3 separate regions of the Homo sapiens genome follow, and all the other regions are reported to be linked to region 1. Evidence: microRNA targets listed by miRTarBase, many of them from high-throughput screens and not tested one by one. Region 1 holds a microRNA gene; each other region holds the end of a gene's coding sequence.

Region 1 (4,212 bases):
AATATGAGTCTATAAAAAAGAATAAAGAGCAATATAATGCTCTGAAAAATTAAATACTTCTATCCAACATATTTTAAAAAACCATTTGAAACTTTAGTTCTGGATTGTTACGATTTTATTAATTTATGCCTCTTATTATTAGGACTTTTTTGTTCACAGTTGTATTCCCAAAATACATAGTTTCAAAATACATTTTGGCTTACCTGTGAGATTACTGCTTTCAATGCTTATAACTGTCTCACGTATGTACTATCTTTCACTTGTATTTGTTCTGTATTCTGATGGGTTTTAATGAGTGGTATAGGTCCTTGAACATTTTTTTTCCCAGAAATTATGCATTAACAGAATATTTCCTAAGTATTTTCACATCTCAAAGTATATTTCATTTGTAGCTATACAAATACTAGTTTGTCTACACAAAGGAATCCAGGTTCACAATCTTGGTGAATCTTGCTCCTTTGTCATCAGGCAATTAGTGTGGTAAATGAGCTGTTTGATGACACTTTAGGTTGATCTCTCCCATCTTTTTTTTAGTTTAGAGATCTATAGAATTTATGTCTTTACTCATGAAATTAGAACATATTATTAGGATATGTATATGTATGTGTCTTTTTCAATATCTTGTATGGGTTTGGGAGAAATTTTCACCAGCAACCTCAAATCTTTCTTTAGCCTAGGTAAATTTTCTCTTATATATCTTTAAATATTATCCCTTCTCCATCTGTTCCAATTAGAGTGAAGAGAATAAACATATGTTGGATACACTAAATCTATCCTCTCAGTCACTTCTATCTTGTAATTCCTATTTATATTTTCATTCTATGTTCTGTGAAAACCCCTCAAGTTAGTTTCTAAATCCCTAATTCAATTTTTAGCAATGTTTATTTGGTATTTGTTGCCAATATCAGTGGGGCTCCTTCAGCAATCACATTTTAAATTTCCTTTTTCAAAGCAGCCTACTTTTTTGGCACAATATCCCCCACAACTCTCCTTGAGATTGCTAATTGAGATGTTCTTCAATTTTTATTTTAAAAATTAATTCTGTTTTATGCATTTTCCCAAACACTTCACATCTTCCCCCAACCCATCTGATCTGCTGCTTTTCTTAAAGTGTCTTCAGTTAAAATCCTTCATTGTCTGTCCATGTTTATCAAAGAAAAGTGTAAATCAATCATTTTTACAAGGTTTACTAAGTACTTTCTGTGCCCCAGGCAGAATACTAAAGAATGGAAACTCTAAGTCAAGGAAACCCCAAAAATAATCTTATGAGATCATGTTATCCTCCCTGAGTGTCACCTGGGGAAGAAAAGGTGTAGCCAGCTGCACCCAGTTGGGAATTTTTTCCAAATTACTGAGATCTTTCTGCCTCTTGGCTCCACTCACTTCTCCAGCCTCTGTCTTGGGACCACGGGACCATCTCTGCAGTCAGGGCTGTAGGTGCCAGGAGAAGTCAGGAAAGGGCACATGAACTGATTTTTCTGTTTCTTTTTTTCTTGTATTTGCTGTGCAAGCCCGGAGTTAGCTGGAGGCCTGTCCAGGTAGGAGCCAGCCGTGGCCCACCCCCCACTTTACTTAGCAAGTTGTCCACGCCAAGTGAAGCCTGGGGGCTAGGCCGCAGCTGCCGTCTGTGTGGGGGGGCGCTGATAAAGATGCTGAAGTCCTTCATCACCCGCTCCCTGGCCCATGGACCTTCCCAGCCACAGCTGTTCTGAGCCAAGAATGTGGCAGGTGTCAACTTGGGACTCCTATCTTCTCTGGATGCCCTGCTGTGCCTGTACTGGGCGGAGGATCACAAAGCACTGACTGGTTTCTTTGCCATTGTGACGCCATCTTTAAAATGCTGATCCAGGCCTGATGCAGTGGCTCATGCCTGTAATCCCAGCACTTTGGGAGGCCAAGGCAGGTGGATCACTTGAGGTCAGGAGTTCAAAACAAGCCTGGCCAGAATGGTGAAACCCCATCTTTACTGAAAATACAAAAATTAGCCAGGCATGATGGCAGGTGCCTATAATCCCAGCTACTCAGGAGGCTGAGGCATAAGAATCACTTGAACCCAGGAAGCAGAGGTTGCACCGAGCTGACATTGCACCACTGCACTCCTGTCTGGGTGGCAGAGTGAGACTCAATCTAAAATAAAATAAAATAAAATGAAATAAAATGCTGGTTCAGTGACGGTAGCCTTCCAATGTTAAAGCAAATCTAACTGAAATCAATTGGTCAGAGGAATACACAGTGTTATAGACAGCGTAACTAAAAGCTTTCTTAGAAAGTTAAGTAACCTTGGTTCAAATCCTGGTTTCACAAATTACTATGTGAACTTCAGCAAGTTATTTTACTTCTCTATTTCCTTTTCTGTAAAATAGTGAAAATAATAGGGTTATTGGGCAGAACAATGAAGTAAGACACTTAAAACAATTCAGCACAGTGCCTGATTTGCAGTAAGTACAATAAATGTTAGTTATCATCATTTTTAACCATAAGATATATTGCACTGCAAGAAGATATCATGAGATAATATTAGACAAACCCAAAATAAGGGACATTCTATGAAATAGAATTGCATTGCATTCAGCAATGCCAAAAGATATCTATGACCACTACAGTAATTCAAAATTGTTTGAGTTTTACTTTTTTTGATGAAAAAAGAAGTAAAAATAGTAGAAAATTAAAAGTAAAATCATCATTATTTGCAAATCATGCAATATATAAAGTCTAAATAAACCCTATTGTATGAGTGTGTTAATGTATAAAATATGTCTGAAAAAAATTTTGAAGAATATATCTGTAAATATTTTTATTTTAACTTTTAATTTTTGAATAATTTTAGGCTTATAGAAAAGTTGCAAAAATAGGGCAGAGTTACCATTTATCTTCCACCAAGCATCCTCTTAAGTTAATATCTAATCTTACATCATCATGATACATTTGTCAAAATTAAGTATTGGTACAGTACTATAAACTACTGACATTTGCATGTTTTACCAACATCACTTTTCTGTTCCAAGATTCAATCCAAGATCCCACATTATACTGTTATGTCTCCTTGCTCTCCTCTAATCCATGAGAATTCCTCAGCCTTTCCTTGTCTCTCAGGATGTGGACATTTCAAAAAATTCTGGACAGTTATTTTGTAGCATGACCCTTATTTTGGGTTTATCTAATATTCTCTCATGATTAGACTGAGGTTGTGTGTTCTGGATAAGAATACACAGAAGTGATGTGTCTTTCTCAGTGCATCATATCTGGAGGTGATATCGATATGTCAACATGATGACAATATGTTTTATTACTGGTGATAATTGACTTTGATCACATGGTTAAGGGGGTCGCTGCTCTAACCTCATTATTTTTTCTTTGTAATCAATACGTATTTAAGGGGGAGATACATTGATACTATGCAAATATTGTATTTCTCCTAAAACTTTTTAGCTTCTAATTTTAGCATTCATCTGTGGATTTTATTTGCCACAATTATTACAGGGGTGTTCTGATGGTAATTTTGTATTTCCTTAATTTCTTCTATGTTTATCAATTGGAATTCTTCTGTAGGGAAGAACTGTCCCTACATTTTTGAGACTCATTTACTTTCAGGGCTGAAGAAGACATTGGAGTCTTCTGAGATTTCAGTTTGCCAGCAGTGTAGACATCACCTGAGAGCTTCTTAGAAATGCAAAATCTCAGGCCCTATCCCAGACCTACTAGATCAGAATCTGTATTTTAGCAAGATCCTTGAGGTACTCATGTTCTTCAAAAGTCACTTTAGTTCCATGTCATCAAGGGACTTGATCAATTGAGTGTAAACTTGAAGTTAGCAGCAGAGCCAGACCACACCTCAGTCTCCTGACTCCCAATGCACTCTTCTTTTCTTATTTGATTGATCCATTCTCTAGAGAAATCCAAAGAGTACAGGCTTTGGACTCAGACCCAAATTTAAGTATCCAACACTGTTTACCTAGCAAGCTACTTAACCTCTCTGAACCTGAGTTTCTGCATATGTAAAGGGCAGGGCAAATATTAGCTAACTTTAAGGATCACAGTGAAGACAAGAGCTACTAGATGGAAAGCATCTGGCAGAATGGCTTGGGCATGAGGACACAGAGACATGCAGGCACATCCTCTTCCAGGAGGGACTGCAGCCAGGTGCTGGGAGTGCTGTCAGCACATGCCTTCAGCTGCTAGCCTCTTCAAGCCTCACCCAAGGTCATGCCTTTT
Region 2 (4,212 bases), not on the chromosome of region 1:
AGCTTACGTGGGCCTGCTCTGTCAATCATGCGGGTGCTCCAGGCCAACAATGACTCCATAACTGTGGAGCAGTGCCTTGACGCCCTAAAGCAGATCTTTGGGGATAAAGAGGACTTTAGAGCCTCTCAGTTTAGGTTTCTGCAGACCTCTCCGAAGATTGGAGAGAAAGTCTCCACTTTCCTGCTGCGCTTAGAGCCCCTGCTGCAGAAAGCCGTGCACAAGAGCCCCTTGTCAGTGCGCAGCACAGACATGATTCGTCTGAAACATCTCTTAGCTCGGGTCGCCATGACCCCCGCCCTCAGGGGCAAGCTGGAGCTCTTGGATCAGCGAGGGTGTCCTCCCAATTTTCTGGAGTTAATGAAGCTCATTCGAGATGAAGAAGAGTGGGAGAACACTGAGGCAGTGATGAAGAATAAGGAGAAGCCATCAGGGAGAGGCCGGGGGGCCTCCGGTAGACAGGCAAGAGCAGAAGCCAGTGTCTCTGCACCTCAGGCCACCGTGCAGGCAAGGTCTTTTAGCGACAGCAGCCCCCAGACCATACAGGGAGGCTTACCCCCATTAGTGAAACGCAGGCGGCTGTTAGGCAGTGAAAGCACTAGGGGAGAAGACCATGGCCAGGCCACGTATCCCAAGGCTGAAAACCAGACTCCAGGCAGGGAGGGGCCACAGGCTGCAGGAGAGGAGTTGGGAAACGAGGCAGGGGCTGGGGCCATGAGCCATCCCAAGCCCTGGGAAACATAGGCTCAGAAGACCGAAGCACTCCTTCCCCTGGCAGGCAGCAGGGACATTTGAACAAGGGGAAGGGGCAGCTTACACTAACAGGGAACTTGACTGGGGCAGAGGGACAGGGAAGCCAGGTCGAGATCAAGCCCCCTTACTTTCCACCAGCTGGAAGGGACTTCACCAACCAAGACCAAATAGCATCTGGTTCAGTGGGGGCCGGGCCCATAGCCCCTAACAGGTACAGGAGACACAAGCGGGGAACCACTACACTTAGCACATGGGGTGCCTGGGCTTCAGATGGGGACCCCAGCGAAGCAGGGGCTGAAGAAGGTGTGGCTGGGGGCTCTGGCCTGGTCCTCTGGACACCCCCAAATATCTACCCTGTGGACTTTGAGCTGAGCATGCCCACTGGCACCCAGGCCACGTGGGACCTGGAGGAGCCTGCCTGGGGCCTGCCTCTGCCAGAAGGAGCCAGGGCTGCTGAGGAAGAGCTGTGGGGCAGAAGTGAAGCCCCGCAGGGGAGGCCACAGGGTCCAGCCTGTCTTTAGGATCATCTACACTGCATGAGGGGAGCCCCAGGAAGGCAGCATTCATAAGCCCCTGCACCAGTGAGGAAGAGAAAGAGGAGGAGAATTAAGAAGAGGATGATCGGGAGGAGGAAGAGGAGAATAAGGAGGAGCAGGAGGAAGAGGGGGAGGAGAAGGAGGAAGAGGGGGAGGAGGAAGAGGGGAAGGAGGAGGAAGAAGTGTAAGAAGAGAAGAGAGGATGTGTTGGGGGTGGGTAGTTGTTTTTGGTTTGCGTCATCATCAGGCCCGGGCTCTGCTCACTGCTGTTCCGTGTCAAGAACTCCACCTCTGCTTTGCCGGTGTAGATCTCGGCCAGTGGCTGCTTGTTCTCTTGGGGATGTGTGTGTTTTTATCTGAGCAGCTCCTTTCCAGAGTACCCCAGCGCAGTTCCAGGAGACGGTGGGAAGGAGGCATGGCAGACGCTCACCTTGTGACTGTGACCTCGACTGCAGGAGGACCAACCAGACACGGGAAGGAGCAGGGCTGCCTGAGGCTCCCCAGGAAGCTTTGTGCTTTGGCGTTCCACCCCTGCTGTTACTCGTGACTCAGTTTCCTCAACTTGGTGGGGTGTTCCCTGCTATGTTTTCCAGCATCCTGTGACTGTCCTGTGCAGTCTATAGGGCAGGGCCCTGCCCCAGCGGGTGGGCTCAGGAGGGGGTTCCCTGAAGCGAGTACACATTGCCAGAGCCCACCATCCTGGCAAGAGGTGGATCCTGGGGCCCTATGGAAGGAGGGATGTGGTGGGGGGGGCCACACTGAGGGAGGGGCCGGGGACTTGTGACCTGTAGTGGCTGTTTGCAGTTTCTCTCTGTGTTAGATTCCCTTTTCTTCAGCAGTTTCAGTTCATGTTTCTCTTCAGTAAATTTTGTTCAGTGTTCCAGTGGTGTCTTGCCTCTGCTGTGTGAAACTGGGGTGGGAGGTGGTCTGCTGGGGATGGGGCCACAGTGGCCAGGCTGACATCGAGGTGTGTGTGGGGCAGGGTCTATGAGGGCCTGTGGGGTGCCTTGGGCTGCATGGAGCCTGGCAACAGGATGCTGGTGGTCATGAGCAGTGACTGGCTGGGTACCAAAGGCACTCCAGGTGTCCTCAGGAATAAGTGACTTGGACATTGAAGGCTGGGCAAGGGGCAGCAGGTGGGTCCCAGGCCCCTGATCCCTGGCAGCACTGTAGGGGTGTGGCTCAAGGCTTCCGGAAGGGTCAGAGAGGCCACGTGTGCAACCAAGGCCAGCAACCGAGGTCAGAGAAGAGCCCCAGGAGGGCCTGGACAGGCAGTCAGAGGCCCTGTGAAGAGCTGTGTGCAGGACTCGGGGTGGGGTAGGGGCTGGTGTGTGCCCATCCTCCCAGATCAGCCCGCAGGTGGCCAGCCTTGGCCTAGCCACTGAGGGATGTTTGGGGACAGTGTGTGTGTGATGGCCAAGGGGACAGAGTGTGGGCGAGAAAGGGATCCCAAGTGCTCATGTCTTGGGGAGGGGGAGAGGAAGGGCGGGGGAGCTGCACTTCATCCTGGGTCCTGTCCTGCTCCCTTCCCAGTGTACTGGGAGGCGCTCTACTCCTGTGTCCTGGGAGCAGGCAGTGGGCCATGAGCAGGAAGCCTAGATGGCCCTGGGGAGTGACCCCTTTCTGTCCTGCATCCCCGAGGCCCTCTGAGCCCTGGATGCTGCCTGAGGAGGGCTCCCTCAGGATGGACGGCGCTGCTAATCCAGACACCCCTCCTTCAGCACTGTGGCCAGAGGGGCAGTTCTTGGTGGGGGCCTGAGGATCCTGGAACCCGCCCTCCTGAGCCCTCCTGGGACTGGCTCTCTCTCCCAACAGGCCAGGGAGCTCGCCACAAATGGAGGGTAGTCCTCGATCAGCCATTTAACTAGCCCAGAGTCTGTGGGCGACAGAACTGGGACAAGTGATAGGCCCCTCCCTGCACATGTGTGGGGAGGGGACGGGATCATTGACTTGGACGTGGCGAGGGTCTCCCGGGGCTCACTCAGTCTGTGTCCACACACTTCCTCCGGCTGTTCTGGAGCACAGAGCCTCCGGCCATCCCCATGGCTCAGATGATAGCCAGGCTCCCCCAAAGCAGCCTCAGAGCCAATGCTGGGAATGGGTGGCTGCCCACCTGGGCTGAGGAATCCTGGATCTAGGCGACCTGTCTGCTTGAGCGGAGCTGCAGTCAGCAGGTCTGCAGGGCGGCAGGGGCCCTGGGAGACACTCGGCATACACAGGCCAGTGCAGGCATGGGAGGGGTAGTTTTGCGGGGCTGTCGGGGAGGGGCAGGGGGCGGCAGGTCTCTGGGGCTGGGCCTGCAGCCTCCCCGGCCTGAAGGTGCTTAACCGGTGTCTCAGGGACCCTTGTAGTGTGTCCCATCGGGGTGCCCTGCAGGCATGCCTGGGGCCCCCACTGTGCTCTGTTCTCCCTGCCTTCTTCAGGCTGGGCACAACCCCAGCATGTCCGTCCCTTGTGTCTCAGCAGGGCCAAGTCAACTGCTCACTTTCCAAGGGCCCCTCCAGATTTTGGGGACAGGGCAAGAGGAGAGGGCATAGAGCTTGGCTGACCTTGCCAGGGCCTGTCAGGGCTCCTTGGTTTTCCCTGTTCAGAGTGGACCTGTGTGTGCCGTGATTCCCAAGCAGGTGTGAGTGTGAGTGAGCGGGTGTGTTTGAGCGTGTGCGTGTGTGTGTCAGTGTGAGCATGTGCATGAGTTTCTGAGAATGTGTGTGAATCCAAGTGACAGAATGTGACTGCATCACTGAGCGTGTGTGAGTGGGAGGGTGTGGGGGAATGAGGCTGTGCCATTGAAGGTGAGCATGCATGTCGCTGAATGTGTGTGACACTGTGAGTGTGTCAGTGTGTGTCAGTGTGTGTGTGAGTTTGTGAGTCATTGTGCGTGCGTGCGCTGACTGCAAATGTGGGTGTGTCAATGAGCAGGCATGAA
Region 3 (4,212 bases), not on the chromosome of region 1:
CCTGGGCAACAGAGCAAGACTGTCTCGAAAAAAAAAAAAAAAGAAAAGAAAAAATTTGGCCTTTATCTTCTGTATTCCTAAATGAACCACATTTAACAGTGATTCAAACAAATGAATTCGCAGTAAGGTAGCCAAACTGTCATCTGGGTGCACAGGTTTACCGGGACAGCTAAAACATCACTGAAAATCAGAATTCTCCACTGGGAGAATGATACAGAGTAGACAGGAGCACCTTTATAAAGGTGCTGGGGGTGGGGGATGAGACCTCACTCCAAGGCATGCAAGGATAAGAGGCCCTGCCTTTTTAAGGAGGTGGGAACGGCTGAATAGTAGGGCTTTCATTTGCTGAGACTTGTGAGCAGGTCTGAGGCAGAGGGGAATTGTTCCGGGCAACGAGGGGATGCTGAGCTGTCAGAGCAGCCCCCCTTCCTGTGCAGGGCTTAGAGCAGATCTGCCTGGGTAAGCTTCTCCTACTAGCTTAGGACCTTGGGTACGTTACTCTGCCTGTTCACTTCTCTATGGTGGAGAAAATGAACACGATGCCTGGACGTTAAGTGCTCAGTAAATAGTAGCACTGCCATTTTCCCAAGTGGAGTGATTTCTTTCTCCTCCAGCTTCCCAAGTTTAGAGCACATGTCCCAGTTCCTCAGTGCAGTGTCAGTCACATGGATTGCTCCAGAGCCCAGCAGGCCCTCCCACCTCATCCCTGTGCTGCCCCAACAGCCACCATGGCCACCGTAGCCTGAACGGCAGCCACTCTCCAGTCAACTCACCCTGCCTCCACTTTCTCTTCCTTAAAATGGTTTTGTTACTGACCACTGCAGCCCCCCACATTCAAAAGCCTTCAAAGAGCCTCCACTGCTTAGAATAAAAAAATGGGGAGGGGGCCTGCCTGGAGGGCCTGCCAAAGGCCATTAACTATGGCAGGTTCTCTGTGCACGTGGCAATCACAGGCTTACTAAGTGTTTAACAATTAAGTGCTTTATTGGGGTTTGGCTTGGAAGGTTCATCTGACTTCCAAAAGGACAAGCTCATGTCCTTTCTCCTCTCAAAGCTTCCCAGACCACAAAGCCCTCTGTGGTCACTCCTTTCACCAAAGCACTAAAGCACCCTGGTGAGTACAAGTATGTGGTCGAGAGCCTCACCCTCAGGTAAGTAAGCATTCTACAGCTCTCCTTCCCCTCACATGGGCACGTGATATGCTGGTCCCACCCCATCTTTTCTCCATCCCTAGCGCAAAGGCCAGTGTGGAGCACAATCTAGGTGCTTGTCAAATGTTAATTTAAGGGCCTCCTTCACGTCCTTCAAACCTCTCTCCACTGAGCCCAGTCAACCATAAGGCCCAAGTACAAAATCCTCAGGAAGGGACAAGCCTCATTTTCCATTCAAGACAAAAGGAATGGAGTCTGCTCCTTGGTGACAGCCCCAACTGCTTGTCAAACCACTCTGGCCTTATTAGGCCAATCTATTGGAAGTACTGCTGGGAGAGGCTGGCCCCACTGGGACAGACGCAGACTCCCGTGATGGCAGAGAATGCCGGGCCCGGGAATGCATACCCAGAGACACTTCCCCAGAAGCTCGTAGGTGCCACCGCTCCTCCTCTTCACTCCAAGCCAGATGCAAAGAATGGGGGAGTGAAAGTTACTTAACTGATCTCCCCCAACCATCTCATTTTATCCAGGAGAAAATGGGGGCCCAGGACTAAGTGCTTCTCCAAAGGTCAAGGTGAAATAGAAAAGCCAGAGCTTCTATTTCTGTGGTAAGATGCATCCCCTTCAGTTTCCTGTGACTTAAGCCTGTCACAAGGCAGGGGCTCAGGATCGCCCTCTGATAGGAAGTCAGGGCCACCATGGGATGGGTGGTAACTGATGAGGCATCCTTTCAGGCCTGTTGATCCTTCCCTTGCTTTCTCCTGAGGCCAGTTTCCCTCCCTAAATGTCTTAGATGAACAAAAGCTCACTGCCACTTGTAGGACACCTCGTATCATTATGCCAAGTTTCTACCCTCAGGCCCTCTTTATATTCCCATCTATTCAGAACTGGTATTTTAAAGATCCCAGAGCACCTGCTATGTGCCAGAGACAGGAGCCAAGATGAACTGTGCTGCACCACTGCACACAAGCCTCATCCTGTCCTCTTGGTTTAGATATTGCTCAGAACCTATTGTTGTATTCAACTATACTTGCACTTGCTCCTATTTGCCCTACATGGGCGTAACTCCTTAAACCAAGCTTTGTTCAGAATTCCTCTGATTGATCATTTAAGTAAATTTAAAAGTCAATTTAAGGAATATAAAAACTGCATAATTTCCAACTCAAGAGTATAAACTTAGATCACTCATTAGCCTCTGGTTGAAAACAGTAATCGTGATTTATACGGAATGCTAAATATCTATGTTCTAAGTGTGCTCTCTTGCCACAAACCCATTTAATCCTAACAATCTTAGGAGGTAAGTTGAGGTAGGCTGTTATTGTTCTCATGAATAAGTTTGGTAAAACCCCAATCTCAAGATACAGCCCAAGCAGCAGAGGCACATGCGTTAGCAACACATGGACCCCACCGCAGTATTAGCAATCATCTTTTGCTATAAGTGCTTGGCTTCCAAGAGCTTTTATACAGATGTCTGAGAGGCACAAAATATGTATAATTAGGCTATTTCTCAAATAGCACAGGAAAGCTGCCAAAGGCGTTCCCTGAATTGAGAGGCAAAGCACTGACAATGGGGACTATTACAGCCTCTGGATACAAGATGACGTATCTGCCAACCTTAACCACCCGAGTCAAATGCTACTTTAGAAATAATTAAGGTTCCCTTTAGTCATTTCACAGGAGTTGCTACAGCAGTACATAAAGTTTTATTAATATTCTGATTCTCGTGTCATAGCTTTTATGGCAGGAAAGGATGAGGACATGCCCCACCTGTAACGTAGAGCAAGCAAACCACCAAGTAGAATCTTGAGATTCTCTCTCAACTGTTCTCTAGAAACACGCTTGTGCTTTTAATCTGCCTTTTAAAAGGGACACAGAACAAAAAATGGTTGTTTGCAAATAAACATCTGAAAGAAAGTAACAGCTGACCTGGGCTGAGGCATCCAAACAAAGCAGTCATTGTGGAAGGAGACAATGCAAACCACACTGGGGCAAGAAACGGGGCAGAGAACGTGCGGTCATTTGTGCGTTGGGTATTTCTACCAGCCCCAAAGGCCCCATCTGGAACAAGTATCAACCAGGAGGGGCTCTATGGCTTGATTTATTAACCTAACTCAAAAGAAGTCACTGCCACCAACAGCACTGTGCAGTTTTATTAACCATTCAAGTCCAGTAGCATCTGGTAAGATTGGGACAGAATTGGGATTGAAAAGTGAACAGATATTCAGCATCTAACAGTTCAAAAGAAGCCACTACATACTCTTTTCACAAATATGTTTTCACAGAGCCAATACAGTACTAGCCATTAACCCAGTACACCAAGTGTACTGAAGTAGAAAAGATGCAACAAGAAAAATAGCTACATTAGAAAGACCAACACTTTAGAAAAAGAGTAAAACACTTTCAGTTTCTCCCCTTTAGCCCCTAAAACAACATCTTACAGTCTGGATCTGGATCTACCTATACAGTCCTACATTAGCTTCTAAAATATTTGTCAGGAGGGAAAAAATAAAATGACACTGGCCAGTACAGTCTTTGGATATTTAGGAAGGGGATGGGGAGAAAGTCAGTTCTCAGAACAAATTAGTCAGCTTCAGTCTCGTCAGCAGGGTCTTTGGATTCTTTGTTCTTCCGCACTTCTTCAATGTGCTTATCCTGTAAAGGAAGGGTAAGGTGTCATCAGTCAAAAAAAAAAAAAAAAAAAAAAGCCTGTCAAGTCACGACCCCCAGCCCCCACCTCAAAGAGGCCCAACACAACCTCAGTGCATATATTACAGCCTGTGGGAACCACACAATTTAAGTTCTGAGACATCATCATCAAATCTCCTGGGTCCCTTGTAGAACCTAACAAGCTGCCTACTGGACTTCCAAGGACTGTGCAATTATGCTGGGAATTACTGAATATTCCATCTTAAAATATACCTTTCATTTAATATGTTAAGCCCCAAAATGGATGACAAAAAGACACCAAACACCTTTTATCAAAGCACTTAGTTCAAGCCAACTCATTGGTGCATCAAACTCCAAGCTCAACCCTTTTACAAAGTAAGAAACCAACCTTCTC

The links. Region 1 holds the annotated microRNA hsa-miR-3943 (UAGCCCCCAGGCUUCACUUGGCG, at 1,588-1,610, opposite strand). A microRNA usually pairs through its seed, bases 2 to 8, with sites in the 3' UTR of a target mRNA and lowers its output. Matches are read on the target gene's strand: a 7mer-m8 pairs with bases 2 to 8, a 7mer-A1 pairs with bases 2 to 7 and ends in A, and an 8mer does both.
Region 2: miRTarBase lists PNMA5 as a target of hsa-miR-3943. Seed matches in the 3' UTR shown: 7mer-m8 at 1,062-1,068.
Region 3: the mRNA of STMN1 is a reported target of hsa-miR-3943. Seed matches in the 3' UTR shown: 7mer-A1 at 3,567-3,573.

What each region holds. Positions count from the first base shown.
Region 1 is chr7:43,148,315-43,152,526 of GRCh38, reverse strand. It overlaps MIR3943 (microRNA 3943), which reads right to left and starts at 1,632; the gene lies at 1,533-1,632. The region is part of intron 2 of HECW1 (HECT, C2 and WW domain containing E3 ubiquitin protein ligase 1); the gene reads right to left. HECW1-IT1 (HECW1 intronic transcript 1) reads right to left here. Exons shown (of 7, transcript NR_135295.1): 5 at 3,700-3,886.
Region 2 is chrX:152,986,781-152,990,992 of GRCh38, reverse strand. It overlaps PNMA5 (PNMA family member 5), which reads left to right. Exons shown (of 4, transcript NM_001184924.2): 4 at 1-2,169. The coding sequence ends at 741. Among named protein-coding and RNA genes, the nearest start is that of PNMA5, 5.2 kb to the left of the region's middle. RefSeq lists an enhancer at 641-1,140.
Region 3 is chr1:25,897,285-25,901,496 of GRCh38, forward strand. It overlaps STMN1 (stathmin 1), which reads right to left. Exons shown (of 5, transcript NM_005563.4): 4 at 4,207-4,212; 5 at 2,832-3,803. The coding sequence ends at 3,732. Among named protein-coding and RNA genes, the nearest start is that of STMN1, 7.0 kb to the right of the region's middle.